4 separate regions of the Homo sapiens genome follow, and regions 1, 2 and 4 are each linked to region 3. The links come from fine-mapping of genetic effects on gene expression. A gene starts in region 3. Each other region holds a variant in brackets. All regions are shown on one strand. Distances are between the middles of the regions. Region 1 overlaps LINC01331 (long intergenic non-protein coding RNA 1331). Region 2 overlaps LINC01331 (long intergenic non-protein coding RNA 1331). Region 3 holds the start of ENC1 (ectodermal-neural cortex 1). Region 4 has its middle 46 kb from the start of LINC01335.

Region 1 (8,107 bases), 230 kb after region 3:
CCTGTTTCTCTTTCTTCCACCAATAATCCACTCCATGACTTTGCTGTGTTCTTCCCAATAGGGTCTGTGGAGTAGGTTTTCATCTAACCTGTTCCTCATGTTCTCTGAAGACAAACGTGCAATCTCTTGTCATGTATTGATTTTGAAACAGACAATAGCTGAAATTGCAAATGTGGGAAAATTATGAATGTTCAGACACATAAAATTATTCGAATCACAACCCCAAATACCTTATTTTCTCAAACAGCTGTCATAAGCTCTCTAATAATGTTCTTTTTTTCCTCCCTCAAGTAATCTAGGGGTCCTCAAGGAGAGGTTTACAGGTGTCCCCAGGCCCTCCTGCCTATGGATCTGAGCTGTCCCAGGCTGCAGCTCCTCTTCCCTGTTCTCCAACCTGGAGTCACTCTTGCTGAGCTTATGAGGCTTGTCAGGCAGGGCAGGCACAGTTGTAATCACTGAGTGCCAAAGTTGGCAATGGCCTCTGGCAGAGTCAGGAAGAAGGGCTCCTGTCCTTTTGTGTCACACTGTGTTAGATGTGGGACATGAGCCCAGTGGGCTAAAACATCTATTGAAACAGCTACTCAAGTTTTGTTATGGTGCCTCTCCCTAGGACCTAAGCATGTGGTCTAAGGGATTGGGCTGGGCATTGAGTAGAGACCACTTGCTCCATGTAGACCCCTCCTACACCCTCTTTGAATTCTAAGACTTCGTTACTCAGCCCTATTCCTGGCTTCTTCCTCTCTTATAATGAGCTGTCTCCTGGGGGTACCTGCGTCTTCCCTGAGAGTGGAATTTTGCCTGGTACTCCACTAGACTGTAATGTGCCCAGATCACACACTTCCCAGCAGCAGGTGCAATGCTGGCTTGTTCCCAAGAGGCTGCTCATTCCCCATGCACTAGACTTCCATCTGGCCCAAGCCACCAGCCTAAGCCAAGAGAGGCCTGGACCCTGCAAATGGATGGCAGAAAACCCAGGCTCAAGCTGAGATCCTCTGCACAGGCATGGTCTCTGGTTCCTGATTTTGAAATAGTAATTGGAAGACCTGGCTGCCGGCCCTCTGCTGTCTGTTTTCTTTCTGATTATAGGGCTCACCAAACTCTTCCGAGAGAAAAAGCATACATTTTGAAATATTGAGTTTTGACTCTCTGTGAAGGCCTGCAGAGGGATGTCAGGGATACCTGAATGGTTGCTGTCTGTTGCCTTTGGCCTCTGCTGTGTCACAGCTGTAACCCTGCTTGGGCATTACCTGAAAAATCTCAGAAGCGTAGTCTTCTACAGATTTCTGGCTATCTTCCGACAGATTCAGAATTTAGTGTGATCTGAGTTGGTAAGATTTTCCTAATTTCAACTTTCACATCAAGATGGTATGCAGCAAATTCTACGTGATAATTATTAAGGATAGAGCAGATTTCAGCTTTGTGACTAGAAAAATACAATCCAGTCTATTCATATCTTGAAAAATTTCGAGAAATTTTCTCCTGTGCAGAAGAAACCAACTTCAGAAGTCACGAATGTGTTAGACAAAGATAAGAGCCAAATCTAAGGTCAATAAAATATTTACTCTGACAGCTGTCAAGTTTGCATTTGTTTAGAACCTGAAGTTATCTGTCAGTTGTCTATGAAATTCACTGCTTTAGCTTTCAGTTTCCCAGATTCTCTTCTATTTGTTACCATTTTTTTTTCTAGCTTCCTTTCTTCAAAATTCACCCACCATCTCTCATAGCCCCACTCCCATTGTGATTTCATCTTTCCCTGTGTCCTCAGAGGTATCAGAGATGCGGCAAGGCAGGCTGTACAGTGCTTGGTGCCGTGGAGCATTTTTTACAGCAGGTTCTGCAAAGTTGACTGTAGATTTAAAGCAACCTTTACATCCTATCTGAAGTGAGTTGATTTATGAGTCAGTGTTTGGTAAGTACTCAGAGATCCTTACATTAAATGCAAGATCCAAGTGCACCGTATTATTGCTTCACTTATTTGTCTTTTGTAAAGCACCTGGTACCATGACAATATTCACTAAATAAATAACAAATGAAACACACTTCCTTCTCTATTTTAATAATATACTATTCATGCAATTTTTTTTCCCAGAACAAAGGATCATTGTACGGAGTTGCTCTGCCAATATTAGGCTGATATCTTATTGCAGGCAGAGTGAAGAGATAAAATGGCATGACACAGGAAAACTGATAAAGTTTCTTTTCAAAACAAAGGAGAACAAGGCAATAACACAAAATATGATAAGCCAAGAAATGATTCAATAGAATTAATACAAATATGAATGTAGTTCCCTTGATATTTTAATGCTTCTCTCAGTTATAAAACAATACCCACATGCCCAGAGGAAAATTCAAATTATAGTTTCTTGATCAATTCTATGTTGTTTTTCTTTAAAAAAAAAAAAAATCTGTTGTCTTCTGCTATGATTCTGTCCTTAGGAAATCATACCAGAGATGTTTAACAGAGAGCAGAACCATTGCCAAACATTTCTAGTGGGAACTGAGCTACCAGATATTTTCCTCAAATTATAGAAAATTGCCATTTGTAAAGTCCACATTATATTTAGCTTCTTAATTTAGGATTAAACATCTGTAACTTATTGTTAGGACATCCGGAGAGTTTGCAAAATTCTATAATAGGAATATTGTCTCTTTCTTTAGTCCCATGGTGTCTCCAAAGAAAGTTGTTTTGGTCCCATTTGTAAAGATTTACTGATGGTCAAAGGAACCACTATGTAATTTTAGAGTAAAAAAATTGCAATGTAATTTTGACATGTTTTCACCCCAAACTGCCACCAGTTGACCAAGGATTCTGATGGTGGTCACCCTTTAAGCTGCCTGACGTACCCAAGCTGGGATCCAGTGGAACAGAAGGGGCAACTTTATCTCTTTCCCCAAGGGCTTCAGCTGGAGACCAAGATGCCGCAATAACACAAGCCTTGGAGAAATTTAGGAATGGCCATGATTTCCCCCTGTAGGCTCCACTAACAGTCAACTAGGAAATAGTACAACTTATTCTTAAAACATTAAAGAATGGACAGTGATCTTTTAATGACTAAATTTAGCTGAGGGGCTTAGAATTTCTGAATGATCAAGGGCAATGTAATAGAACTTGAGTCTTGCATTTACAAGCTTTTCAGATTAGCTTTAGTTCAGTTTCTTCAAATATGGTCAAGGAAAGCTTCTGAGAAGACACCACATTAAAGCTGAGCTGTGAAGGATGATGAAGATGATATAGGAATAAAATTCAAGAGGAGGTTTTCTGGCTAAAGGAGTAGAGTGGGTAAAGCAAAGCAGTGGGAAAGGACATGTGCGTTTAAATATTCGTCAGAGCTCCCCAGCGGCCCTGGAGGTACACATGAGGCTGGAAACATGTTACAACACTCTGTTCTCCCAAACTATTGGCATTGATGTTATTTCCCCTGGAAAGCCTTCTCTGAAACTGGATCAAGTGCCCTTTCTCTGCTTCTGGATCCCTCTGCCCTTGTTCCAATTTAGTTCTTAGAGCAATACATGCATTTATTTATTTTTTCTTATTTGACTTCCTCTCTCTGGTTTAAGCTCTTTAGAGGAGGGTCCTTGTCTTGACCACTTCTGCCTTCTTACTGCCCTAGACAATGCTTGATAGGTGCTCAATGAATATTTTTTGAACTGAATAAACAATGCAAACTGTTCCTTAAAAGATGCTTTTAAAATGTTTTAAATTTTGTTCAAAGGCCTTAGACTAATTGTTTTAAAGGCATAAACCATGTATTAATAATGAATGTGAATATATTTTATAGTTAAACTATTAAAATAAACTTACTCTAGACCATTATAGAAAGAACAGAATGCAATACCAGATGGGTACCTTTTGGATCCACCTGAAGGATTTCAGCTGTCAAATTGCTAAAAGTACCTCTTTATAAAGGAGTTTCATCTATGTGATAAATTGCTCATACCAGGGACTATTAAGATAGCAATACAGTAAGTCCTCACTTAACACTGTTGATAGGTTCTTGGAAACTGCAACTATAAGCAAAATAGTGTATGACGAAACCAATTTTACCATAGGCTAAATGATATAAACAAGAGTTAAGTTCCTACAGCATATTTTTGGTCTCAAAACATCGAACTTCCAAATAAACACCAATATACTTTGGATATTAAGCATTGAAATAAATTTGAGTTATACATAGATTTAAGATTAATACAAACAAGCAAGATAATTGTTCAACTGCTTATTCCAGTTCAGGGTCGACAGTGGCCAGAGCCTATCCCAGCAGCTTGGGGCACAGGGCAGACACCAACCCTGAACAGGACA[C/A]TTTCCCATTACAGGGTGCACTCACTCACCCACCCACACTCACTCAGGGACAATTTAGACACACCAATGAACTGAATGTGCATATCTTTGGGATATAGGAGGAAACTGCAGGACCCAGAGAGAACTCACACAGATACGGGGAGAGCATGCAAACTCCACAAAGACAGCGGCTCTGGGGAGAAATCTATTTTTTTCCTTCTCATCAATGTTATAACGAAATAATATTGAATGAAACATTATTTGAAGACCTGCTGTTGAAGTGGGTAGAACCCCTATAATCTGCCCGGGAAAGACTGTGTTGGAGAGAACTTGGACTTGGGGTCAGAAAACATGAGACAGCTCTGGAAATGGCTATGGGAACCTGAGAAGCTATTCAGGCCCTGATCTTCAATTTCATATCCACACACTCTCAAACAGAATATCAGCTCTGCTTGCTTTGCAGAGTTGGGAAGATAAATTAAGATAATGTAGATGTGAGATAATAAACTACAAAGAATTCTCCTTTTTATCATAATGGTGCAAGAAACAAGTTGAATTGATATCTCAAATCCTAGAATGTCTTTTGTTCACAAGTTCAATAACATATTCCAGACCTTAGGACTTTTGATTTGATAAGGAATCCGTTGATTGTACCCTTACCTCTTTCTAACCTGATAAGGAAAGGAATATAAATCACCAGTAAAGGAATGTAGGGTTATAAAATTTATCCTTGGCAGGACACTGTATACCCTCTGGTATTTAACACCAAATCCCAGAGTCAGATTCAGCCTCCAGGTAGTTTTTGTGTAGAGCTTATTAATAACTGCATGGAAATATCCAATGGCAGGTTCTGGCCACAGTTAAGTTGAGTGCTGGCTGGACAGATGAGCTCTGCTCTCCAGCACATTTCTCCCATTCTCTGCTCTTTTCCAGGATGTCAGGGGGTGGCTTTTGCCAACATGTTGAAAGGCCTGGCCAGTTTTCCTTCAGTGCTGCTCAGACTAGGTTACAGGGAGGGTTGGCATGTTCACCAACTCTATTTCTACACTGACTGTTCTGACAAAATTTAAACCTGATAGGGATTTGTCACTCCCTGGTGGCCCTTTGCCTTAGTTTATGACAGGCTTATTATCTTTGATCTTCCAAACCCAGGGAGTAGAGGATGGGTGTTTGATTTCATATACCAGGTACCGTCGACTTTAATTATCTTCTTGAAATCCGTCCAGCATGCAGGGATGAGGAACTGAAGTCCCAAATCACCCTGTAGTTTGGACAGTCTCTAAAACCAGAATGTGCATATATAGTTTAGTTATGCAGTATTTGTCAGGAAAATGCCATATTTTGCTGAGTTGTGATTTTCTGATATGCCCCATTTTAAATTAGACCTTTTTGTGTGTGTGGTTGATTTATAATTCTGACAGAGAAATAGCTATAAAATATAAAATATGTAACCAGCCAGGGCTGGAACACAGCCATATAATTTCTCCATTTGCTCTGCTGAAGTTGGTCATATGTAAATCCTCTTCTTTGCTTGGTGGCAGAGTCCATGGATGGGAAAACTGGAAGAACATTGTAGAGTGGGAGTTAGTCATATCATGTTTAACAGCATTAAGAGTCAAATATTTTTTCTCAATTTCAAATAATTTCTCTCTTAAATTTTGGTTAGTTACCTGGGTCCTGAACTAAATATCATTTAGTTCAGTCAACTGTGGAATTAGAGCTTGACAAAAAAATATATAGCCAGGCGGCCAGGCGCCCTGGCTCATGCCTGTAATCCCAACACTTTGGGAGGCTGAGGTGGGTGGATCACAATGTCAAGAGATTGAGACCATCCTGGCCAACGTGGTGAAACCCCATCTCTACTAAAAATACAAAAATTAGCTGGGCGTGCTGGCATGTGCCTACAGTCCCAGCTACTTGGGAGGCTGAGGCAGGAGAATTGCTTGAACCCGGGAGGCACAGGTTGCAGTGAGCCAAGATCACACCACTGCACTCTAGCCTGGTGACAGAGCAAGACTCTGTCTCAATATATATATATCTATATCTGAATCTGTAAAATTAAAATGGTGATATCTGTCCTATCAGCCTCATGGCCAGGGAGGGAATCCTATGGTGGGAGGGTGTAGTGGGTAGGGTGTATAAAACAGAAGGCTCTCCAGAGACTGTAATGTTCTATAAATGTAGTGTATTGTCATCACTTGGCCCACAAATACAGATATTTGAGAAACTGATAAAATGCGGTTGAAAAGGAGGCATTGTGTTGTGCCCAGAGACATCCTGTGGCTCATGGGGAGGGGATAGCCATCATAGGCTGCCATATGGACCTCAACTTACAGGCCCCCATGGGGACAGAAGCCATAACCTTAATTTTGGAGATTGGTTCAGTGTAGGAACCACATTCAAAAGTCTTCCATGTATAAATTCAGAGAAAGTGATGAGCAAAAAAGTTAGAAGCCGGTGGAGTGATGATTAGACATGCATTTATTTGCTGTACTCTAATGTGGGGTTTGAAAAAACTGGTAGACTCTAACAACTTTGTCAAGATGCCCTTCCCAACTTAAACCATTCATTTCCTCTTTCTTTATCCCTTACACTCCAACTGTGGAGCAGCCTGTGGCTTAGCCAGCAGCCAGGCATGGAATGGGGGTGGGGGGTTTGGGTGTGGGAATGAGTGTGCCTATTCTTGGAAGCTGGAGTCCGGGGTTTGAGTCTAGACTGCACCTCTACTGAGTAACTCGGAAACCATGGACTATCTAATCAATGCAGTTTGCCTGCTTCATTTATTGTGAAGCTCTAAGCAAAAGCTCTACAGAAACTGTAGAGTCAGCCATGTAAACTAATATTATTATTACTATGTACATCAATGTGCATGAATGTGTGTTTATCAATGAAATAAGCAGAAGGGAGAAAGGACGCCATATTACATTTTTACAAATTGGCTGCCTAATTTGCTTCTTAGTTAAGCACATGTCAGAATGCTTGGCTGCCTAGTTGTGGTTGTGAAGGATGTGTCTAGAAGTTACTGATCAAAATACACCCAAGAGCTCTGCCCTGGCTGCAGAAAGGGAGGCAATCTTCCACTGGTGATTTTCACACTTTATATTTAGCAAAAGTAACTTTTTTCAAAAGTCTGTTTGATTGTCAAGAAGCTTTTCAAAAACATCTTCTGTAGGAACAAAAAGACCAAACCTTCCTTCCTGCCCACTTCTACCCATAGGCTCTCTCTCAGTTCTTTCTTCCCCTCCTCCTACGTGCTCTTTCTACCCTATTCTTGCTCTCCTACACGCCTGCTTACTGTGTATTTGTAGTCCAGAAGTGGCAGCTGCCCACACAGATGAATTCAGTGGGTCAAGGGAGACACTGTATCCATAGGAACCTGAAAAGAGCCAGGCAGCCTCTGCTGTCCAACCCACGTGTCTGTGATGTGGCCAGACTGGCTGATGAAGGAGTTTTGCTCCAGTTATGACACTTAGGAACAGACAGGGCAGAAACTGACAGCTTTGATCCAGACCCTGGGATGTAAAATGTGCCCAGCAGGAGCCATTGCGGGCAGTTGTCAATCACTTCCTCTTAACCTGCTCCTGGGATCCTGCCTCTGGCTCCAAGCTGAACACTCCTAGCTCCTGGCCAGGCTGGCTATGGTAGGTAAACTAGAAGAGAACCTGAACTGGGAGCTTATTTTTTCATTCAACAATGATCAAACATGTACTAAACACCAGATACTGTGTAATAGTATGTAGTAGTAATAGAGGAAATATTATATAATAGTAATAGAAGAAAACCCAAATAAATAAGATATGGTTCTTCCTTTTAAGAAGTTGACAGTTG
Region 2 (8,107 bases), 210 kb after region 3:
TAAGGAATTGCCACACTGTCTTCCACAGTGGTTGAACTAATTTACACTCCCACCAACAGTGTAAAAGCCTTCCTATTTTTTCACATCCTCTTCAGCATCTGTTATATCCTGACTTTTTAATGATCGCCATTCTAACTGGCGTGGGATGGTATCTCATTGTGGTTTTGATTTGCATTTCTCTGATGAACAGTGATTATGAGCTTTTTTAATGTTTGTGGGCTGCATAAATGTCTTCTTTTGAGAAGTGTCTGTTCATATCCTTCACCCACTTTTTGATGGGGCTGTTTTTTTCTTGCAAATTTGTTTAAGTTCTTGGTAGATTCTGGATATTAGCCCTTTGTCAGATGGATAGATTGCAAACATTTTCTCCCATTCAGTAGGTTCCCTGTTTGCTCTGATGATAGTTTTTTTTGCCATGCAGAAGTTCTTTAGTTTAATTAGATCCCATTGTCAATTTTGGCTTTTGTTGTCGTTGTTTTTGGTGTTTTAGTCATGGAGTCTTTGCCCATGCCTATGTCCCGAATGATATTGCCCAGATTTTCTCCTAGGGTTTTCATGGTTTTAGGTTTTACATGTAAGTTTTCAATCCATCTTGAATTAATTTTTGTATAAGGTGTAAGGAAGGGGTCCATTTTCAGTTTTCTGCATATGGCTAGCCAGTTTTCCCAGCACCATTTATTAAGCAGGGAATCCTTTCCCCATTGCTTGTTTTTGTCAGGTTTGTTGAAGATCAGATAGTTGTAGATGTGTGGCATTATTTCTGAGGCCTCTCTTCTGTTCCATTGGTCTATATATCTTTTTTGGTACCAGTACCATGCTGTTTTGGTTACTGTAGCCTTGTAGTATACTTTGAAGTCAGGTAGTGTGATGCCCCAACTTTGTTCTTTTTGCTTAAGATTGTCTTGACTATATGGGCTCTTTTTTGGTTCCATATGAAATTTAAAGCAGTTTTTTCTAGTTCTGTGAAGAAAGTCAATGGTAGCTTGTTGGGGGATAGCATTGAATCTATAAATTACTTTAGACAGTATGGCCGTTTTCACTATATTGATTCTTTCTATCCATGAGCATGACTGTTTTTCCATTTGTTTGTGTCTTTTCTTGTTTCCTTGAGCAGTGGTTTGTAGTTCCCCTTGAAGAGGCCTTCCACATCCCTTGTAAGTTGTATTCCTAGGTATTTTACTCTTTGTAGCAATTGTGAATGGGAGTTCACTCATGATTTGGCTCTTGGTTTGTCTATTATTGGTGTATAGGAATGCTTGTGATTTTTGCACATTGATTTTGTGTCCTGAGACTTTGCTGAAGTTGCTTATCAGTTTAAGGAGACTTGAGGTTGAGACGATGGTGTTTTCTAAATATACAATCATGTCATCTGCAAACAGAGACAATTTGACTTCCTCTCTTCCTATTTGAATACCCTTTATTTCTTTCTCTTGCCTGATTGCCCTGGCCAGAACTTCCAATACTATGTTGAATAGGAGTGGTGAGAGAGGGCATCCTTGTCTTGTGCCGGTTTTCAAAGGAAATGCTTCCAGCTTGTGCCCATTTAGTATGATATTGGCTGTGGGTTTGTAGTAAATGGCTCTTATTATTTTGAGATACGTTCCATCGATACCTAATTTATTGAGAGTTTTTAGCATGAAGGGGTGTTGAATTTTATCGAAGGCCTTTTCTGCATCTATTGAGATAATCATGTGGTTTTTGTCATTGGTTCTGTTTGCACCCTCCCAATACTAAACTAGGAAGACATCGAATCCCTGAATAGACCAATAACAAGTTCTGAAATTGAGGCAGTAAACAACAGCTTATCAACCAAAAAAAAGTCCAGGACCAGATGGATTCACAGTCAAATTCTACCAGAGGTACAAAGAGGGGCTGGGTATCATTCCTTCTAAAATGATTCCAAATAATAGAAAAAGAGGGACTCCTTGCAAACTCATTTTATGAGGCCAGCATTGTCCTGATACCAAAACATGGCAGAGACACAACAAAAAAAGAAAATTTCAGGCCAATATCCCTGATGAACATTGATGCGAAAATCCTCAATAAGATTCTGGCAAACCGAATCCAGCAGCACATCAAAAAGCTTATCCACCACGATCAAGTCGGCTTCACCCTGGGATGAAAGGCTGGTTCAACATACGCAAATCAATAAACGTAATTCATCACATAAACTCTTGTTTATTTCTACCTCATCTTCCTTGCTTTTTGGCATGATGAGAAGTTGTACTCATCTTACACTTTCTTCCAGGTTTGAAATCAGCTGTTTCTCTAAGTAGCCTGAATTTCCTTTAGTGGAGAAGAGTATTTAGAATACTGTGAATATCTGGGCACTAGGTGCGCTCATTGCCACTGTGATGTCATTGCTCCCAGGTCCTAGCCATGGACAGAACTATATTTATTTCTATATTTATGTATGTATATTGAAAACTATTCATTCACATCAATATCCAATTCCAATGCAACAATACACAGGGTTCATTCTAATTTTCTCCCTTTCTGTTATCCCTAAAATATCTACTTAACTGATCCATCCTCCTATATGTAACCCATCTCCCAGCTCTGTTGCTGCCCCCTACTCCTTGCAGCTCCTCTTCTATTGTAGCTGCCTGGATTCCAACACCTCATACTCCCAGCTCCTTCCTTGCTGCATTTGCACTCTGGCTTATGTCTCCCTGTGGATACCCCACTTACCTGGCTTGGGCTCCAAACCCCATGCCAGGCCACCATCCCATGTGAACCCATTTCTCACCCTGCTCAGGCTTTCTGTCAGTCATTTTCAATCTGACTCCTAGCAGATTTTTAAAAGGATCCACTTGGGTAGATACAAAATGAGTTTAAGCAACTAAACTCTGGGAAAAAAAAAAACAACCCAAGCCCAAATCTATTTAATAACATGTATTACATTTTAAAATAGGTAGATTAGAGTACTAAAATAAAGTTTGTTGATTCTCTTCTTTTCCACTTTAACCCTTTAAATTAAAACAAATACTAGGGCTTAGCTGGGATATGTAGCAGTTGGCTGATGAGGAAGGAAGTGAAGATGATGCTGCCTTCTGGGCTGGCATCTACATAGTGATTATGCAAGACTAGGGTGAAGGAGGCAATGCGGAACAAGGACAGAAGAGGCAGCCTCTTTTCTGCCTTTATTTTATGATTTTTAATCTTGACTTGAGAACCAGATGTTCTGATTAAGGAATGACTGAGGACTGGGGACATGGCCAAGGTTTCAAAAAGAGGCAATGGACAAAAGATGCTTCTGGTAGACCAGGTGACGTCAGAAAGAAAATTAATCTAATTTTATGTAAGTGAATTTCCTCCTGAACCAGGATAGCAGGAAATGTAATCTTTCAGGAAAGACAGAGTTGGAGATTTCATTTTCTACTTATCCCTTTTCCCATGCTAGAGAAACAGTTTTACTTCAAAGAAGCAGACAAGGAGGTGTTTCCTGCAGGGTGAACAGATTTGCAGAGTGGGCTGGTGCTACTCCCTTGATGAGGAACCTCTGTGTGGGGCAGCCTATCTGGGGAATTAAATTGTTCTCTGGCCCTTGCCTGCTGGGCTGCAGGGCCTCAGTGATGGGGATGGGGGGTGGGGCACTCCATAGTTCCCGTGGCTAAATGAGTGCACGTAGCAGGATTGTCCTAAGCTTTGTTTAATGGCATTTCAATGGGGGAAAATGAAGTTCCCGGAACAAAATCCCAAATTGTTCTTGCTTTATCTTCCTCCTAAATGTGTGTATTTCTGAGCCGAAAGGCAAAGGAAGTAAAACTCCACCCACCTCTTCCCCATCTGACCATGTCAGATCCCAAGTATTTGTCTGTGCTCCAATTAAAGAGACGAAGATTCTCGATTTCACCCCAGCTCTTGTCAGTACAGGGAGCTCTTAACTTTCCACACGGAAGTAGAGAAATGTAATTTTGAGGAGAAGTGCTGATTTTTATTGGGCATGACTTAACTCAAGCTGCATCCCTGTTTTTTTTTTTTTTCTTTTTAAGAATAATCACTTCAAAATGATTAATGATGCCTGAAGCCTGACCAGTCTTACTTCCTGTGGTGAAATGTGGAACTTTTGTGCATGTCTGGGTTCGTAGGAGGGTGTGCACCAAACTCTATCAAGAGATAGTTTCCCATACTGTACAAACAGTTGGGTCATTGTTCAGAAAAGCTGACTCTCTGAAGGAAACGTGCTACAGAGTGGTACCATATCCACAGCGGGGAGGGAAGGCTTTGCTTCAGTTACAGAAGGGAAGTAAACTCATTTCCTTCTTAAGGTGCCAGAACAAGAGAGTTGCTT[T/G]GTCAGCGGGTGCCTCAATCTGGCTTTTTTGTTGTTGGTGGTGGGGGTTACGAACAATGAGGATGATGTCTTTGAAAACAGGTAGGATTTTTGAAGGGTCACAATAGAGGAATAGGTAGAACAAAGAGTCACATCCTGCTGGGACGCAACCATTCTACTGGACCTCTAGGCTGATCTGGGGGAACAGACTCCTCAGGGGAGCATCCGGCCCTTCCAGCATTTCCCAGGAGCAGCCCTAGCCTGACTGCCAACCACTCTTCATTGAGGACCCAGAACTGGTCTGCAGCAAATGCATTTAGCATTTTTGTGAATCCTGTTTGGAAAAGAGCATGGATGATGCTTATTTAAGAAAGCTAAAACTAACACAGAATACTATTGATAGATTTTTTTTTTACAGGATTTTGGAAGTCTAATAATTGTGTCATGTATATGTTCTCCTACCTCCTTCCCCACTCCTCCATGCTATTCTTTGCATTAATACTCTGAGAAGGGTGATTTGGTGAAAAAGAAAAGCAGACCGTCAGCTTATCTTTTCTGGAGCTCTGAGGAAGCTCTATAGTGATCCTTCCCTTAATAAGTTGTTTTATAGAGAAGCTGAACTTTCCACTGAGGCACAGTGCATGGGATAAAAGACTGGCTTAAGAGATACAAAGTCAGAAAGGGGAAAGGGATACTAGCAGAGCTCTGAGTGCTGAGGGTGGTGCGAGAGAGTGCGTGCCTGTGAGAATGCACACGTGTGTGCAAGCCTTCTCTCTTCTGAACAAATTCATCCCAATAGGTCTCCATTTCCTCAGGACCCATAACATCACCCACTTATGGGAGGGCTATGAAGAACAATGGGTGATAGCTGCAAAGAAATATTAAGGCATGAATTATTGCTTCATGATTGTCTTCTATTAGAAAAGCCACATGTGAGACAAAACAAACAAACAATTCCTCCCCAACGCCCCCCCACCAGCATACAAAAAGTCTACACTGGCTGCTCCTGAGCTGAGCTGTTCTTAGGATACGTTGTGTAAACCAGGCTCTCAATTGCAGAACTGCATTGGCATCAACTGTGTTAGAAACCATAAGTAATTTTGGGCACACTGCCTAAGGGGTTGGAGCCAGGAGGACTGATCTTTATGTTAACAGGCAGAGCACCTGCCTGAGAAATCTGGGAACACAGGTTTTCTTCCCACGACGCCTTCTTCATGCGAATTAATCTATTAGCTGGTATGTGTGTCAGTTTATTTAGGAGCATATGTGCTGACAATTGGCTTCCGACTGTAAAATACGGTCTTGAGGGAGAAAATGATTAATTGCCTGCTTTAAAGTGTGTGTGTGTGTGTGTGTGTGTGTGTATGTGTATGTGTTTGATGACAGTCACTATTAGTATGCATGTGCCTATAAAACTAAAGGCAAACTAACGGCAAATAACCATTAAGACATTGAAATGTGTGAATAAACAAATATAAAAGAAATAGGGCTGTGAACATCTCAAATAGGTCTTTACTATCATAAACATTTTTTGGGGGGGTCTCTGCCTATATCTTACTTTTAAAATGTTATATGTGTTAGTAAACTCTTCATTCTTATCAATGTGAAAAGAATGTAGGAATGGGATTACTTGGTCCCTTGTAGAAATCCAGAGTAACAGACTAGATAATATAGTTTCCAAAATACAAAATGTAGGCCATTTATGGTTGTGAACTATTTTCCCAAATAAAGATACTGAAATAAGAAACAAAACAAAATTGCCATTGTTTCATTATAAAAAGGGCATTTTAACACAGAAAGCAGAAGTACATAGTCTCAATAAAGAGCAAAGCCTTGAGTTGAATATAAGTAATGTGATGAAAGGTCACTGCACTGTTTTTATCTTTCTCATTTTGCTGTGGATGGATATTTGGGAACCCCTCCTTTTTATTGGCACTCTGCATTAGGAATGTCATTATAGCAGTGGTGCTCAGAATTCAAGCGAAGATAAATGGGAAGAGGGATGGCCAGTTTGAAGGCCAGTTTGCCCAGGATGGAGGTATGACAACACTCAGTAAGTGTCTAAGGCACTGCTAAGTGCTTTATGCACATTGCTTCATTTAATTGCTGTCTAGTTTCCAGAAACTGGCGTAAGGATGCTGCTTTCCATTGACCAATGGTCCATCAGCCAGCTACTGAGAGCTTTTGGAGAGTGGCTGTGACTAGCACTTTTAGAAAATAACCAAATGAGGAGCTGAGAAAACAAATTATTGCTGAGACAAAGAGGGTGGATGAGATGGTGGAAGAGGAAAATGGACCAGCTCAAAACTTAAAAATAAAGCCATCAGATGCTGCAGAGGGGGAAAGGAGAGTGGGGAATGAGGAGCAGTCAGTTAGCTAAGTGATGAGGAAATAATCGAGGTCAATAAAGCAGATCCAGGGGTAGGCTGGCAACAGAAATCAGCTTGTACATGGTGCCAACTGGGTTTGGGAAGTTTGGTTAGATAGCTGTTCCAGAAGACAGCAAAGTGATCGTTTTTTCTTTTTAATTTCTTTCTTTTAATAGAAAGATTTGGACTTTCAATCACTCAACAAACATTTATTGGGTGTCTACTAGTAAGGACTGTGCTAAGTGCTGAGGATTTAGACATAAAAGGAGCAATCTCTGCTCTTAAAGAGCTCTCAGTCTGGGAACTTTTTGAGGAAGTCTGAGAGGTGAACAGACAAGGCTAATGTCATGTGTTAAAAGCTCTGGGAGAGGAAAGCCTGGGGCTCTTGCCACACAGGGCAGAGAGTATTAATGATGCAGGAATTTTTTTTGACCCCTTCATCGGACTTGCTACAGGGGTGGTCCATTTACCAGGCCCACTGTGCTCAACCTTTTGCAGGAGGGAGTGCATTAGCAAGCGAGTGCAGGATCTGGCTGGATGCTTTGGGTGCTGGCAGGAGCAGGTTCCATGTGGCCCCATGGTGGTGCCCAGATGGGGATGCCTGTGACCGCCGAAGCCCCAGAGGGTGTGTTACGATGATCTCTTAGCTCTGCCATCTGTGGACAGCAGTGTGTTATCAGCTCAGTGGGCCCCTTGCCTCATCACGTTGGGTGGCTGTCCTCTGCCAGCAAGGGCAAAGGGCCAGTGTGACAACCTTTTTTGAGTACCCACACTTGGTGGGTCCTGAGCTCTTGTCCAGTGCCCAAGAAGAATTAGGTTGCATGGAAACTTGAAGGATGGTGGAGGCAGAGAATTTTTTTTTTTTTTAGTGATGGAAGTGGCTCTCAGTAGAGAGGGGATAGCTGGAGAGGGGACAGGATGGGCAGGTAATCTTCCCTGAAGTCTGGCTGTCTCCACATGGCTCTTCTCTGAAGTTAAGCTGTCTCTCCTCTGAAGTCTAGCCGTCGCTCTGAAGTCAAGTCACCTCTCTCCAGTCAAGCCACTTCTCCCTCTCTACTACTGAGTCTGGGGTCTTTATAGGCACAGGATAGGAGGTGGGGCAGGCCATAGGTAGTTTTGGAAAAGGCAAAATTTGATTGGTAAAAAGACATTATTCAGAAAGAACCAACTGGGTGCAGTGGCTCACACCTATAATCCTAGCATTCTGGAAGGCCGAGTTGGGTGGATCACCTGAGGTCAGGAGTTCTAGGCCAGAAAGAACCAATCAGGAGAGAGTGGGCAAACAGGGATAGAAGTTCCCACTTCAGGCTGTGGGTTTCAGGCTTTTTGGCTTGATGGTGGGGTTTCGCCAGGGACCCACCCTTGTCTGCCTCTATCTATCATTAACTTTCACTGAAGATGGCCGATGGTTGGGAACAGCATCACAGAGGTCAATGCTGAGCTAGGCTTTGAGGGATGATTAGGA
Region 3 (8,107 bases):
TCTCATCTCTTTAATAAACAGCCAGACTTTCCTCTCTCTCTCTTTTTAAAAATAAGAGGATTGCTGATGGAAGCTGAGGTCTCATTTTCCTAGGTTTGTATATCTGTATTCTCACTGTTCTGAGGTCTTCAGATCCTCCTTTGGGAATGGAGGGCTTATTCCTCCAGCCTCTGTGTGTGCTGGCAGCTCCCTCAGCAAAAGAGCACCACCTTGCCCAAAGCCATGGTCCCTTCCCTGGGCAAGCTGCATTCAGCAACTGGGTGATGTAGCCCTATAAAAGCCTTCTTGCCCTAAATGCAGACAACCTGTGAGGCCATTTCAGCTCCAGAGGTCCCCATGGCGTCAGCCAAGGCTTGGCTGAGACCACATCCCAGCTCAGCATCTCCATCTGTCCACCCTGCTTCCCTCCCTTCCCCTTCAGGGATGTTGATCGCAACATATGTGCTACTGGGAGGTGTGGTCCCTGACTGGGCGTCCACTTCCCAACACGAACTTGACACTATGGAAGGGGAGCACAAATCTTTGGTGGGCAGTTGGCCCCTCTGCCACACTCTGTCTCCAGGACACAGCCTTGAAGTCCATCTAGCAAATAACTCGGGGAAGGAAAGCTGTGCTATCTTCCTTGCACAGATTCAGAAAGTGTCCTCATAAAACAAAGAGGGCGCTTTTGGAATACCAGCAGGGAACATGTCTGAATTTGGGTGGGGCTTCAGGAGACCACCGGAGGCAGGATGGCAGCTGCTTAGCCTACTGTTTGGTCTAATTCCCTGAGCTGTCCTGTCCCTGGTACCATGATCGCACCGTGTTAATTAAATCATTCTCATTAATTCAGCCCAAGTGTAAATTAGGAAGGAATGAAGATAAATTAGGTTTGAAGGCAGCTAATACATTTAACCGCATGCTGCTTATTTTGCGGCCTAACAAAATAACATTGTTAGGGGAGATAACAAGCCCAAAGCCTTGGGCACAGCTTCTTAATAGCATTAAAAAATGAGACTTTGGTTTGATGTCACAAGACAGAGGCAAAGACCTGCTCCCAAGGGCCTACAGGACTGGCCTAATGTCTTGTGTGAAGTGTTGGCTATTGTGTAATGCGGATACAGTGTAAGCAGCATTTCCTGACTTGTTTGTGACTCAGATATCTGCTATGTCTATGGTCGTCCAGTTTTGATGACAGCCCTGTTTAGAAGTTTCTTCCTGTACAAAATGAAGACTTGCTCAGCTTTTCTTTGTGTGAGTGGGGTGATAAGAGTTACCTTTAGGATTGGCTGAGAGATGCTGTGGGATTACACCGTTTGAATTGCTATGATCATAAATTTGCTAACTTGCAAATCATTTTCAGCTGAGATAAGCATTAAAAACTGCCCAACTGCCCGAAAACTAGTCATAGATTGGCTCAAGCAAACCAGAGTACAGTTTGTAGGAGGTCATCAGTAGCACCCATGATTTCCAAACTTGCAAGTTTAGTTCTTGTGACTTTCAGCAGGAAAATGTTTTCCAGTTTTTAGGACTTACATAAGCTAATTTCTTTTCTCTTGTATTGCTTATCTCCCCGAGGCAGATGAAGCGAATGTATACGGTCACTGAATGCATTTCAAGATTTTCCAGTCTACAGCTTTTTTTCCCTTTCTTCTATTGAAGCATAGAAAGTGGCAACATTAGGTAGAAAAGATACAGGAAAGTGGCACCAGCGGATGGTGACACAATGGCCAGCGGATTTCTTTCCTTTCTCAGCCCTGCCTGCTTAGCAAAGTTCTTTGCAAAGGGATCTGAACTTTGCTGTTCCCTTGGTTAAGGACATCCCGCAATTTCTAGGTGGTAAAGATACATACCTGTCCCTAGTTCTGTCGCTTCCTGTGGCAAAATCCCCAACCAACCAGCTGAGCTATGTACATAGTCCATTTCTAGGCAAGGTCATCTAGGTGCCGTTTTAGGTAGATTTGACTCACAAAGGAAGCAGACAGAGTGGGTCTAGGAGGTGTCTAAAAGGTGCGTTGGTGGCTGCCTTGATGAGCTCCCCCACACCTTGCCACAGGCTACAGAAACATGTTTTAAAAAGACATATGTGCAATAGTTACACATTTCCGCCTCCCATCTTTTCAGCACCTATCTCTGGAGTCTACAGAGTTTCCATCTGTCTGGTCTTTGCTTCAGAACCTGGGTGCTGCTTGCCAGCCCTCTCCTAACCTCGCAGCCCCCCTGGCTCTCCATACGTGGTTCTTGACATGAATTGATCCGGGCTGTCTCTGTGAATCAGCCTCAAGCCGAGACTCTGCATTAAAAAATATATATATTGAAAGGTTCGTGGTGAGGCTGCCGAGTTAATGCTAACAAAGGACTTCAGAGGGCACTGTCTTTCTTTGTTTGCAAGGAGCGAAATTTCTCGGCGCAAATACCAGGAAGGAACAAGGATAAAGGAAAATGAAATTAGAATGAAGAACTGACAGTCTTGGTTTCAGCAGTCTGGACTCTGGAAGCGCCATGTGGGGCCTCCTTAGCCAGTTTAAATCGCTCCTGCGCCTAGTGTTTTAAAGCAAGCTGGGAGGCGAAGCGCGGGCGCTTGGGGACGCGGGGACCCGGGGACGGAATAAACTCTGTCGTGGGGCCCTCACTCTCGAGCTGCAGAGCTGGGACATTGTTGCTAAGTGACTACGAGCCAGGCAATTCACATCTCCCTGGGCCTCGGTTCCCCACCTGTAAAACAAGGGGGCTGGACCGGTCATCTATCCCGTTCATTTATAGACTTAGCTCCAAATACCGAATAAAAGACAGATATTTTAACTCCCAGTGGAAAGACAAGCCTCTAGTTGCAAAGATAAATGGGATTCGTAAAAGTGATCACCACGCGAGATTATTTTTCGAATCGCCTTCCCTTCTCCTGACACGCGGGACTATTAAACGTGTGTGTGTGCTGGGCCATTTCTTTACTGAACTCCAAACTAACACCACCGAGCGATAAAAAACAGGAGAAGGTGATGGAGGCTTAATCGCTAGGAGAGGAGGCGGCGTGGCTGCTGCTTTGAGGAGTTCACTTTGAATCAAGCGGCCGCGGCGATTGGCTGAAAAGCACGTGGTGCGCGCCCCGCAGGACTGCGCCCCGGCTGCCCCTGCAGTCGCCTGGCTTAGGGCAGAGTCCAGCCGGGGGTGCCGCACCCACTGGGGAGTGGGGAGGGAGGACACATAGGAAATGCCTGGGGCTGGAGTCTCTTTGGCTCTCTGCCAGCAAGAAACTTAAACGTCCTGGCTTGCTCAACCCGAGTGTCCCTAAACTGTCCAGACTTTTGCCCGTCCATTGCCACTATCTCTCCCCACTCTGGGTGTCCTACCCAAGGCGCTGTCTATGCGTGCCCAGGGCCTGTCCTGCGGATACCCAGCTCGCCCCTTGCAGCCCTTTTTAGAGCATCTCGCGGGCTCTGGCATCACCAAGCGCACAGCCCCGGGCTGCGCTCCCCTAAGGTGGGTCCCTCAGATCCGGGGCTGTCCATTAACCAGGCTGGCCCAAAGAGGCGCAGACACTCGAACCCGGGAAAACTTATTTTATTCTCGGTTCCCGGGGTTGCAGCTGCCAGCGGCTGAGACAGTGCGTCCGCTTTGTCTCTCTGCACTCCCCGCAGCCCCCCTCTCCCGCTTCCTCTCCCGATTAACTCCCCCGACACGCTCTTCTCTAGCTCCTCTCCTCCTCCCACTCCTTCTCCTCCTCTTCCTCCTCCTACACCACAGGCCGCGCTAATGCGCTTCCTCCCTCCCCCGGTGTCGGTCTCTTTGCATACGCGCCCCCTCCCCTCCCCGCCGCGCCACTTATAGCGGGGCGCACGGCGGCGGGGCGCAGACTGCTCTGGCAGCCGGAGAGGAGGCGGTGCGGCGGTGGCGCTGCGGAGACCCGGTCCAGACGCCTGGCGGCCGCCGGCACACAAGGCGCTTTCTAGCTCCCTCCCCCGAGCGCACAGCCCGCCTCCTTCCGCGGCGCCTGCAGTGGCAGGCTTGCTCTGCCCTACCGTGACGCGCTCCGGAGACGCTCTGCGGGTCCTGGACACCGGGTCCGCGGCGTGGGGACGACAGACGGAGGCGAACGCCATCGGTAGCCGGTCCGCGAGCCATCGTTCGGGGCGCAGTCCTCTCCCCGGCTGGCCCTCCTTTCTCCGGGGCATTCGCCACCGCTTCCCTGGGCTGAGACGACCGGTTCGTCGCCTCCTTGCCCGTGACCGTCGCTAGAACTCAGTTGTGCGTTGCGGCCAGTCGCCACTGCTGTAAGTTTCCCCCACTGCCCCGGACCTGTTGCAGGCGCTGCGGGCTTCAGGGGCTGCTTCGGCTGCAGGGGTGTGTTCGCGAGGGGTGAGCGTGCTCCGAGCACTCGGGAGCTTCGACTAGAGGGCAAGGGGAGCTCTTCTCGGTGCGGAGATCACGGTGCCCGCCGCTGCCCTCCCACAGCAGGCAGAAGCCGGGCATCGCCGGAGAGGTCGACCGGCCTCCCCTCCGCGGTGCAATGTCTGGGGCGAGCCGCTGGGGAAGCGAGGAGCCGAGCTAAGGATACAGTCAGCCTCTCTCCTCTGCGGAAAGCAGCGCTTTCCTGGGGGTGAATGTCGCGCTGCGTCGCTCCCCGCAGCCTCCAGGGCCGAGCGCGCGGGATGGTTGGCCCACGTTGCATCCTCCCCGGCTTGGAGGAAAGTTGGGGCCATGCACAGACACCCTGAGTGCGGGCATGTTCACTGCGGCGGAAATGTCTATAGAGAATGAATGAAAACTGCTTTCTGAAAAACTAGTTTCTTGATCTGTCGTGTTAACATTATTAGTTACAAAGGATAGGAATTGGTGGGCCTGGAGATGAAACACTGAATTTATCCACATGCGGTTTGGTGTCACACAGGCATGGCCAGCTTGTTAAATAGCGTTGCAAGTGTTAATAAAAAGACTCTGGCAAGAAGCTACTTTTGTTAACAAGATCTTTATAATGTTCTATTGTTACCGGTAATGTAAATGCCCAGAAAAAAATCTGCTTAGTTTCTCTTTTGATTGGATTGAGATCAGGTTCAAAACCTGGAGAAGGGTGCGGGACGCTAAGCATTGGAGGCAGAGAGCCTGAGTTAGGAGCATGAAGTGAACTGAAGTTACTGTAACTGAAGCCCTTTTGATGTTCACAGTAATAGCAGCCCTTTCTCTGTCTTCTTTGCAGACGTAGGTTAAGTACATGTGTGCATTTTCTTGGCCACTTACTTGGTATGCAAATGTGATTTCTCTGGGGGCTTAAAAATGCTCGAAAGATGATTCATTTTATGTTGAAGGTGTGTTCAGTGACTTGTATACATGGTTTCTGCTGATATTTTGAGGTTTGCACAGTTTTAAACCAGAAAGCAAGTATTTCCTCTTGGGTTTCCAAGTTTACTTTTTATTTTAATCAAACATTGTTGCAAGAATGTTGATTGTGATTTTGACTGTGACGTGCTTTTCCATCTGGGTGGTATCCAAGATGACAGGCTAGGCTCTTCCTTCTGGCTTGTTGGGCCAACCTGGAACATACAGGAGCATAAACACAGGATGCGGAGAGATGTAGATCCTATATCCTAAGGTCTTCTAAGCAAATTGTTTTCTTAGGTGTAAGTCTGGTTGTGAATGTTGTTTTGCACCATCCTGAATTTAATGTTCAAGGAAATGTGTTCTGGGCCTAGCATGATTCCAGCTCAATGTGTAAGCATTTTGGTGCCTGTGCACCTAGTTTCAGGGAGCCTCATTCTTCCTTCACTCAGGGCAGCATTTGCTCTGAGAGAGGCGGCAGATTCACAAGAGTAAGTAGACAGTCTATTGAGGTTTAGGTTTAAAGTCTTCCTCCAGATACTCCAGATTGAATGTACTAATTAAAATAGCAACTACAGTGGTGGAGCATTGAGAATGCTAATGAATGTTTTAACCCTTTGGAAACCTGATGCATTCCCATAGGTTCATATGGTCATTCTCCAAAACACTGGGCATTGGTTAGAATGGAGTAGACAGTAGATGCTTAGCTTGAGGTGGGAGTGAAGCTGGCTCCTCACCATTTTTTATATCTCAAGTCACTGTGGAAATTACTGGGTGCTTTGTAAAGTCTTCCTAACACTGGAGCTCTAGGACTTTGTTGCTTCCTTTCTTCCACTCAGCCATGTTTACTCATCATAAAAAATTATATTCCAAAAAGGAAAGAAAACTAGTTGCATCACCTAATGGTATGAGGTATATGTGTCATGCCCCTGCCTTTGTGGTTTTCTGTGCAGTCTTATAGTGGGGCTCACATCTGGTTGGGGAGGTGCAGGTTAGTATTTTAGCCCATGAATCTGTGGCAAATCATTCATTTGCATTTATTAATAATTCTTAGAATATGCATTTAAAAATGTCTGAATGGTTAAAGGAAACAGAGTTTCAGCTGCGCTTTTGGGACTGGCTGTTATGTGTCTGGAACAGATACTGCAACCAGCCACACAGTTTACCCTCTGGGGATAAACAGCGGGATAAACAGCTTCCTTAGGAATCCTTGGACAGGCAGGTTCTTGAGGACTTCATTCCTTTGAAGTAACAGAGGGATGGTGTAAAAGAAAAGGATGAAGGCATGTGATTCAGTTTTTGAAGATGGGTGACAAGCATTTCCTATGTCTCTACCCTACTGTTTTCTTACTGAAGAAAACCAAAAGATAGCATTAGATTCTACTATAATTTCAATGTAGATACCAAGGAAAGCACTGTAGTCAGCAAATAAATTCTGGGGTGGCCCTAAATTAACAACAGCTGGCAAAATACACACACACACACACACACACACACACACACACACACGTATTTTTTGATTTAAATAAAGCAGTGTTTGCATTTTGAACTCCTTCTATGCAGGTGTCAGCATTTGCAGGTATACAGGAACAGTCCTAGTGATGCACTATTTAATCAAAAGACGGATGGATCTTTTGTTCTTGCAGCTGGTTTTCCAAGAATTGATATAAAGCGGGAAGAACAGAAAACAGCAGTCATAAGTATGCTACTCAAAATATTCTTCTTTTTATGTGCCAAATCCTCACATTGGAAGCTGTCCCGAGCAAGACAGGTAGTTGGTGATTATGGCCAGAATTTATTCTGTGCTTTGACTAAAGGCTTGCTGATCAATATATGGTTAATGTTGAAATTGGGGTGCTTTTAGGACTCTTCAGTGGTAGAGCTGTCTGGTTAGAAATTAATCTTTAAGTTGGGATGCCGAGGTGGGAGGATCAGGTGAGGCCAGGAGTTTGAGACCCGGTCTCTACAAAAAATACAAAAAATTATCTGGGTTTGGTGGTGCACACCTTTAGTGCCAGCTACTCGGAAGGCCAAGGCAGGAGGATCACTTAAGTCCAGGAGTTCGAGGCTGCAGTGAACTGTGATTGCACCACTGCACTCAAGCCAGGGTGACAGAGCGAGACTTGGTCTCAAAAGTATATATAAAATGAAATACATTATCTGTAACATTTAAATAAAGGTCTGATCATTGCAGAAGTTGGCCTTACATTTCCCATTTACTGTATGTGCTGGGAGATTGGATCTTACCAAAGGAATTCTTAATGGAATTAATTATTAGGTGTTTGTTTTACGCATGGCTTTATGTTGCATGGGGCATGAAAGCCAGTGCCCATCCTGGCATTATAAGAGCAGGAGACCTGGCATTTTAAGTGGCCCGCAGTGAATGAGCTGGACTAGGACAGGGAGCTGTGGGAATGAGACTCACTCCTCTTGGCTTTTGCTGACTTATATTCTAAAAGACTTCGATGGCCTGAAAGTTGGCAATCAGGTTTTCCAAGATGAACCTGCTTTTTATGCAGTGATTTTTTTTTTTTTTTTAAACAGTGCAGAGTTCAAATAGCTCAACAGTATTAGCAGTGAATATCCTTCCTTCCGGGTAGTTGTCTCTGGCTTTGTCCTGGAATGGCCATACACTATTCTAGAATAGTAGGTGGCATGGTCAACAACAAAGTGTTCTGTTTTTTGTGCAAAACCATTGTTGCTTTCGTTCTGCTGTTCTGAACATCAGGAGCATCATTTTCAATTTATTATTATTATTATTTTTAGGAGTGGAAACAAAATGTCAGTCAGTGTGCATGAGAACCGCAAGTCCAGGGCC
Region 4 (8,107 bases), 380 kb after region 3:
CACTCTGTCACCCAGGCTGGAGTACAGGTATGCAGCCAAGGCTCGCTACAGCCTCAAATTCCCAGGCTCAAGTGCTCTTCCCACCTCAGCCTCCTGAGTGGCTAGGACTATAGGCACACACTGCCATGCCCAGCTAATGTATTTTATTTTTTAATTTTTTGTAGAGACAGGGTTTTGCCACGTTGCCCATGCTGGTCTTGAAGTCCTGGTCCCAAGTGATCATCCCGCCTCGGCTGTCCAAAGTGCTGGGATTACAGGTGTGAACCACTGTGTCCAGCCCTATTTTGTTATTTTTAAAAAGACACTATACAATTAACAATAAAAGCTAGCACCTGCAGTGCGCATGCTATGTGCCAGGCACTGTTCTAAGCATTTTGTATGAATTATAATAACTTCATGAAATAGATGCTATTATTAATCCCATTTTGCAGAGGAGGAAACAGAGAGATTACAGTTTGTAAAACAGGAAGCCAGGCTTTAGATTCAGGCCTTTTGGCTCCAGTACCCATGCCCTAAATATTGATCTCTAATGTCTCTCAACCATTTTATCATCAAACTCTTCACCCTGTCTCCCATGCTGAAAATCCTGGCGCTAGGCACCGAGTCTTCTTTCTTTCTCTCTCACCAGTCACCAAATCTTTTTCTTACCTCTTCCTAATATCCTCTTGCATATGCCCCATCTCTTTCACCACACTCTCTCTGTCATCACCAGGTGACAGATCCTTACCAACCCTTACTAGGTCTACCCATGCTGCCCCCTAACTGGTCATCCAACCTCCAATCTCTCCCTCCCCAATTCATCCTAAATACCGCAATCAGCTCAGAGTCCCTGAAACACTGCTTTGTATACATCATACCATTCCCCCCAGAATGCTAAATGTTTTGTTTATCAAATAAGTTGAGATTATTTAGACCTCCACCATCTACGAAAAGGGTCAGCAAACTATGGCCCATGGGCCGAGCCCAGCCCACTGCCCGTTTGTGTTTACCCCACAAGATAAGAATGTTCCTTATAAATTTTTAATGGTTGGACAAAATCAAAAGAAGAGTAATACTTTGTGACAACATTAAAATGATATAAAATACAAATTTTAGTGTCCTTAATTAAGGTTTATTGGGATATACCCACTCTCATTTTTTTGCTTATTTTTTGTGACTGCTTTTGAGCTACAATGGCAGAGTTGAATGTTGCAACAGAGACCATAAGGCCTGCAAAGCCTAAATTCACAATCTGGCCCTTTATAGAAAAAGTTTGCTGATCTCTGATCCAAACTGTATTTCTACCTAGTCTTATCTACCTAAACAAACTGGTGTTCTTACCCTTGCTTGAAGATATATCAGGTGTTTTTCTGCCTTAATACTTGTGCTCCTCTCATTCTTTGGCTTAGTTCAGGGATTGGCCAACCTTTTCTATAAAGGGCCAGATAGCAAATCCAATGGGAAGTCTCATGCTCTTCTAATTGGAGTATAAAGTGGTAAGATAATTTGAATACTCCTCAGCAATATTCACTACATCCGAACATAAATATACCTTATATAACACGATTATACCTCTAGGCATATGCCCAACAGAAATTCTTATTTATAAGCACCAAAAGATAGGTACACAAATGTTTATTGCAGTATTATTCATAATAACCAAAAATTAGAAAATACTTAAAAGGCCATAAACAGAAAAATTATAACTATGCTGTGGCACATTTATTTAAAGAATATCATAAATGATACTACAATAAAGAGCAAACTACTGTTATGTACAACATGTATGAATCTCACAGAATGTTAAACAAAAGAAACCAGGCACATAAAAGCACACACTGTGTAATTTATTATAAAGTTCAAAGTCATGTGAAGCAATCTATGTTAGCAGTTAGTCTGTGGTATCACATCTTAGATTCCCCAGGAAGCAGAGATTTGTGTGCAGTAAGTCAATTGGGGTGTGACCTGAGGGTCAGCCCATGAGAGTGAATGAAGGATGCTGTGAAGGTCAGAAGGAAAAGGTGAACTGTGATGAAGTCACAACCAGGGCCTCAGCTAACCTAAAGGGGAGCTTTCTAATGATGATGGCAGCTGGGCATGATGACTCACACCTATAATCCCAGTGTTTTGGGAGGCCAAAGTGGGAGTATCACTTGAGCCCAGGAGGTTGAGGCTGCAATGATCATACCACTGCACTCCAGCCTGGGCAACAGAGTGAAGTGAGACCTTGTCTTTAAACACACACACACACACACACACACACACACACACACACAAACAGCCTTTACATCCCAGTCGTTTACGATCAACTGGTCACTGGATGTGAGACACCTTGAGGAATGGTGCAGGACCCTGGGTAAGGCTCTCTTTACCCAGGGAAGTCTTCGAGTGAGACTAGGCTAAGAGCAGCTAGTAGCCAACACTCCTAGTAGGGGAATAAATGCTTGAGTCGTGGAGGGGGCCTGGGGGGCACACCACAGCATCCACTGTTTGTGGTTACCTCTCAGTAGGAGTAGTGACTGGAAAGTGACACCAGGACAGGGGTTTCTAGGGGTCTGGCGATACCCTATTTATCCAAATGGTGGTTACAAAGGTATGTTCATTTTGTAAACATTTATGTTCATGATTTTTGCACTTTATAATATTATATTCTATGCCATAAAAGAGCTTATTTAAGAATGAAAGGGGCCGAGTGAGGTGGCTCATGCCTGTAATTCTCAGCAGTTTGGGAGGCCAAGGCAGGCAGATCATTTGAGGTCAGGAGTTCGAGACCAGGCTGACCAACATGGTGAAACTCCATCTCTATTAAAAGTACAAAAAAATTAGCTGGGCATGGTGGTGTGCACCTGTAGTCCCAGCTGCTCAGGAGACTGAGGCAGGAGGATCACTTGAACCCAGGAGACAGAGGTTGCAGTGAGCCGAGATAGTGCCACTGAACTCCAGCCTGGGCGACAGAGTGAGACTCTGTCAAAAAGAAAAAAAAAAGAATGAAAGGTGGAAGTGATTAGGATTGCTGAGAAGTCAAGAAGAATGAAGACTGTAGAGTGTCCCTGGGATTTCATAGCAGGCTGGTGACTGGTAACCCTAAGGACAGCTGTTTCAGGGTGGCAGTCAGGTTGCAAACAGTTGTGGAGTAAGTGAGAAGGGAGGAAATGGGGAGAGTGAGGGTGATGACACTTGAGATGCTAGCCTCAGGATAGTAGCAGTTAGTCAGAAGGGGCCTGGTGAGAATTTTGTTTTGAATAGAAAATGCTTGAGCCTTTTAAAATCTTATAAGAAGTATCCAGTGGAGAACTGGTTGTAAATATTAAAAAGAGAAGGAATGGTTGTTGAGGGTTAGTGCAAATCACAGGATATTAGCCTGCTTTACCAGAAGGGCTTTTCTAACCTTTGATGGCATCAGCTATTCAGGCCACTTATCTTGTCTTTATCACATGATACCTCATGATGTTATATCTCTATTTATACATGTAAGTTTTAACTTTCAATAAAATCCTCTTGAGAACTGTGACTATTGGGCCTTGAATCCCCATTGATTACTTAGCACAATGCTTTGTGCACTGTAGGCACTCAGTAAGTGTGCTGGTATGGGAGTAGATGATAACAATGGTGATAAAAATAAGCATAAAAAGAGAGCATATCCATTTTTTCAGATCTTGTATGGAGCTTAAAGCAAGATGATTATGAAAAGCAAGACAGAGAGTCCCATTTTAATAAGCCCTGATACTTTTTTCCAATATCTGGTTTCATTTGTAGTTTATGCATCTGAAAATTGGATAGAAAGGTCAAGGCAGTGACCAGTGGGGCATCGCAAATTATGCAACTAAGAAGATGCAATTCTCTGTTTGATCCTTTATCCAGGACTAGGACATAGCCCTTTCTTACCCTTCAAAGTGCTTTCTTGATTCAGAAAAACTGGGTTCAGAGAACTTGTCCAAGGCAACAAGCTACAGGCAGAAGTGAGCCAAGCATCCAGGCCTCTTTCCCCAGCAGCTCCAGAGCCTGTCCGCCTCCCCTGTCCATATGTTCCAGATGGACTGCACATGCTGGGGTGTAAACATGCCAGGCTTGGGAAATTTGAAATGTGTGTTCAATCAATGAACAGGAGGACCTAGTCCTTGGTGAAAATGCAGTCTTCCATTGGACTTGTCTATCCAGACATATTTGTAGTATGATGACAATTTGTAGTTATATGGAGTCTTTCAACCTTACGGGCTTCGAAGTTTTTTTAGATAATAAATATGTGAGTGCCTTCTGTTTGGCTTCCTGGATCACTCTACAGGCCCAAGTATCACAGAGGTGCCTAGCTGTTGGACATCCAGATATGTGGGTAGAAAACCAAAAATAGATGACAAAAATCTGCAGTCAAAATCTTTATATCATTAAGGTCTGGATTTATAGTCACAGACATTTCAGATCATAACATTTCAAGCAGCAATATTCTACACAGTTTGATTACAGAATGCAGTTAATTTTCTCCTGGCCTTTTCTTTAAGTCAGCAATATTACAATGAAGTGAAAAACGAGAAGGGAGTGTTTGGTATGTTTCCTGGATT[G/A]ACTGACTCTAACAGCATCTCTCATTTTGTTAACCCTTTCTTTTCTACTTACATGGCACTTTTTGGCTTTTTCCTTTTTTCCTTTTTTTTTTTTTTTTTGAGATAGAGTTTCACTCTTGTTGTACAGGCTGGAGTGCAATGGCTCAACCTCGGCTCACCGCAACCTCTGCCTCCTGGGTTCAAGTGATTCTCCTGCATAGCTGGGATTACAGGCATGCGCCACTACGCCTAATTTTGCATTTTTAGTAGAGACGGGGTTTCTCCATGTTGGTCAGGCTGGTCTCAAACTCCCAACCTCGGGTGATCTGCCCACCTCAGCCTCCCAAAGTGCTGGGATTACAGGCGTGAGCCACCGTGCTCTGTCGGCTTTTTCCTTTTGAAACCAAGTAAGGATGCTTTACAGGAGGGCACAGCAGCCTCAGACAACATGGTATTTTCTGCAGCAGCTGCTGTTAACACACCTCCAGGTCCCTTTCCCGCCACCCTGAGTTCACCTGCAGCAGAAGTGGATGGCTTCTGCAGCTGACAGCTTCCCGCCCCAAACACCTAGACCCTCTGCTTTTCTCTGCTTCTCTCTGCCTGAGGGCTTTCTGTGGCCTCACTCCCAGAGCAGTGCAGCAGTTTTATGGATTTAATATTCCCAGTGAAAATCCTCAACATAAGGCTATGAAGTCCATGGATAAGTACCTGGGGTCCCCCAACCATGGTGGGATAATTTCAGGGTGCATGCTAAACAGTTTCTTAGAGGGTCCTCGTGGGATTGAGGCTCAGTTTACCTACACAAGTGGCCTGTGGCTTTTCTCTTTTCCCATCTTATTTTTCTCACCCCCACTTTGGTGTTTCCTGGACTCACCTGCCGAGTAAAGTCCTTGTCTCATCTGCTCTTGTGTGGTTCCCACATAAAGACACTTCCCAAGTCAATGTTTTCTAAATTGTCTGTCCTGAATTCAATTTAGTGGGCCTAACCAATATTTCCCAGCAATAGAAAAATACCATTATGCATCACAGTTAGGAAGGATAAGTACTGAATCACAAACCCTTTCATTCAGTTATATATGCTGGCTAATGAAAAAAATTTATTTGTTGCTGTGGGTCATGGTCAAAAGAGTTTGAAGATCATATTTCTAAATGCTTTTGACATTCTACTCATTAAAACTCAGTATAATTTCAATATGGGAAATGAGACCAGAGAGAAGAAAACAACAGCATCTGAATTGGAAGGGGTTTTCCCACAGGTTAAAGGAATGAAAGGAGCCTTAGCTTTGCAGCAAAGTTGCTGTGTGACATGCAGCAGGTCGTGTGTCTTTGAGCCTCCTTTCCACATTTCTAAAATGAGGGGCTCAACCGGATGATCTTTGGTGTTCTCACTAACACGGATACTCAGGATCTAGTCCCTTCCTGAAGTGTTGGCACACGCGCATACCCACCTGCTTTGATATCTTTGAGTCCTAGCCTCATGAGTGGTTCAGAGCACAGGGAACCTCCCCAATTGGGTACAGAGGGAGAGCACGCAAGAGGCCACCCATGGGAGCTCATTCTTTCTGCTGGCATGGGAGAGAACATCTGCCTGGCACCAAGGGTATCCCACAGGGAAGCTGCACTGCCTGGCAGGGGTTGGGGGAGGGCAAGGTTGGCAGGGAGAATCCAGCAGGGCTCAGGACTAGGAGTGGCTCCGAGTGGAGCTGAGGGTAGGGAATGGAGGTGGAGGAGGGCAGCAGGTGTCATTGAGAGAGTGCGAGTGGGCAGCACAGAGGTCCATGGGTTTGTTTTCCTCTGCCCTTGGCAAAAGTGGAGGTGCTTTGGAAGGAACTGGGCAGGGTGAAAAGCAGCGCCCCCTGGAAAGACACAGAAGCCGTGGTTACTTGGATGCCAAAGGAAGCTGTTGGTTTTTTTTTTCTAAAAAATCACAGTGGTCCCTTAGGTTAGAGTCTTGGTAAAAATTTTTTCCACCATTCCCTCAATCCCTCACCCTACACACGCCCGACCCGGTGGTACCCTGCCTTTCCACACATTTTTCTTTGAACCCTGCAATCTTTCTCTCTCGTCATTTCATGCCCTTCTTTCCTTATATACTCTGCTCACAACTCAAGTCTTCTGTGATACTTCCTTTAATTTTGCCTCTCTGTACCTCGATTCCAGATGTCAAGGAGGCTGTGTGGCCTAACACACCATTTTTATTTGCTCTCGAGCTTGGTAGTCAATCCATCTTTTCTACCAGATGACTTTAAGGAAAACAGAATGGAGCCCCAAATTTTCCCTTAAGAGATGGAAGATAAAATATGGTTTCAAATAAGAATACAGGCAAAATATCTTACAAAAATGGGTGCCAATAGAAAGCATTCAGATACTCCCATGAGAAATAAAAAAGGTAATAGAGTATTAATAGTAGCTAATACTTGAGTGATTACTATAGGTAAGGCACTCTTGAAAGTGTTTCAAGTATATCAAAACACTTAATTTTAGAACTGTGAAGTGGATTCTACTTGTGTCTTTATTTTGTAGGAGAAGAGACTTGTACACAGAGAGGCTGGGCAACTTGTACATGGTTGCACAGATGTCCAGAGGCAGTGCTGAGATGTGAACACAGGAAGACTGGATTCAGCATCTGTGCTACTAACCAGGACACTATGAAGTCTCTCATACCTGTGGTACTAGGAAAATCAGAGAAAATTTCAAGGAGGGTGGGGCATTAGAAGCTGACTATGGAGGAACCGGTAGGAGTTGGATGTTTGGAAATAGAGGGCAGGGCATTGCAGGTAGAGAATGGGAGTGTATTCTGGATGCCAACACATCTGTGGCGGTCCTAAGATCAGGAATAGATGGTCTGTATCTTCAGTATGACTTAATGTTTCTGAGTGTAAGACTTAATCTCCATTTGAAAAAGGATAAAAAGAAGGAAAAAAAATAAAAGCTATTACGTTTCTGATTTGATTTTCAATTTGACAATATAATCTATACATTATGTTTACATTTGATTTTCCTAGTTTTTCTTTTTCTTTTTTTCCCCTCAAGATGCTCAGCTGCAAAATGCAAGAATTTGGGAAGATTTGAGCAAAGGACAGGAAAGAACAATATATTCTGGGAATGCAGGATTTCTTCCTTTGGACCTGCTTCCAGTGGAAATCCCCATGAAGATCCTCTCTTCCATCTGTCTGCTGAAACACAAAGAGAAATGCCATGAAATGAGAGTGAGGGAGAGGTTTTTTAAACATTGAAGATGCCTGAAAGCAGAGAGTCTTGTAGGGCTTAAGAGAGACTTTCATCTCCCTGATTTATTTCTCAAGGGAGTGTTAACTGCCCCCAGATTTAATATCACCCCTGAGTGACTGGGAGGCAGCAACTGGTAAAACTATTTTCACTGTCTCAAAAGCCTCCCTGAAGCACCAAGAGGCCAATTCCTCAAAAGAAGACATGCAAATGGCTTTAGAAACTGCAGAGCAGCCAGGAGGCAGCAGCTTATTTGCCTAAAAAAGAAAAAAAAAATCATGCTAGAATCACAGGTGTATTTTACAAGCTTTAAGTTGATTCCTCATAAGGGCAAAGTCTGACTGCTTCTCAGATATCAAAGTTGT

The links.
Region 1: its variant is fine-mapped to the expression of ENC1 in whole blood (INTERVAL, PIP 0.98).
Region 2: its variant is fine-mapped to the expression of ENC1 in whole blood (TOPMed, PIP above 0.99). The same link has a PIP of 0.9 or more in neutrophils.
Region 4: its variant is fine-mapped to the expression of ENC1 in whole blood (INTERVAL, PIP above 0.99).

What each region holds. Positions count from the first base shown.
Region 1 is chr5:74,402,290-74,410,396 of GRCh38, reverse strand. All of the region lies in intron 2 of LINC01331 (long intergenic non-protein coding RNA 1331), which reads left to right. Among named protein-coding and RNA genes, the nearest start is that of LINC01333, 85 kb to the right of the region's middle. The variant C/A (reference allele first, on the strand shown) is at 4,301.
Region 2 is chr5:74,429,704-74,437,810 of GRCh38, reverse strand. The region is part of intron 2 of LINC01331 (long intergenic non-protein coding RNA 1331); the gene reads left to right. Among named protein-coding and RNA genes, the nearest start is that of LINC01331, 100 kb to the left of the region's middle. RefSeq lists an enhancer at 3,984-4,073. The variant T/G (reference allele first, on the strand shown) is at 4,295.
Region 3 is chr5:74,636,447-74,644,553 of GRCh38, reverse strand. ENC1 (ectodermal-neural cortex 1) reads left to right here and starts at 3,826. Exons shown (of 3, transcript NM_003633.4): 1 at 3,826-4,247; 2 at 8,056-8,107. The coding sequence starts at 8,069. It also overlaps a transcript of HEXB not described here. RefSeq lists silencers at 916-1,210, 3,718-3,977 and enhancers at 2,127-2,840, 2,841-3,556, 4,018-4,377.
Region 4 is chr5:74,258,021-74,266,127 of GRCh38, reverse strand. No RefSeq gene overlaps it. Among named protein-coding and RNA genes, the nearest start is that of LINC01335, 46 kb to the left of the region's middle. The variant G/A (reference allele first, on the strand shown) is at 4,536.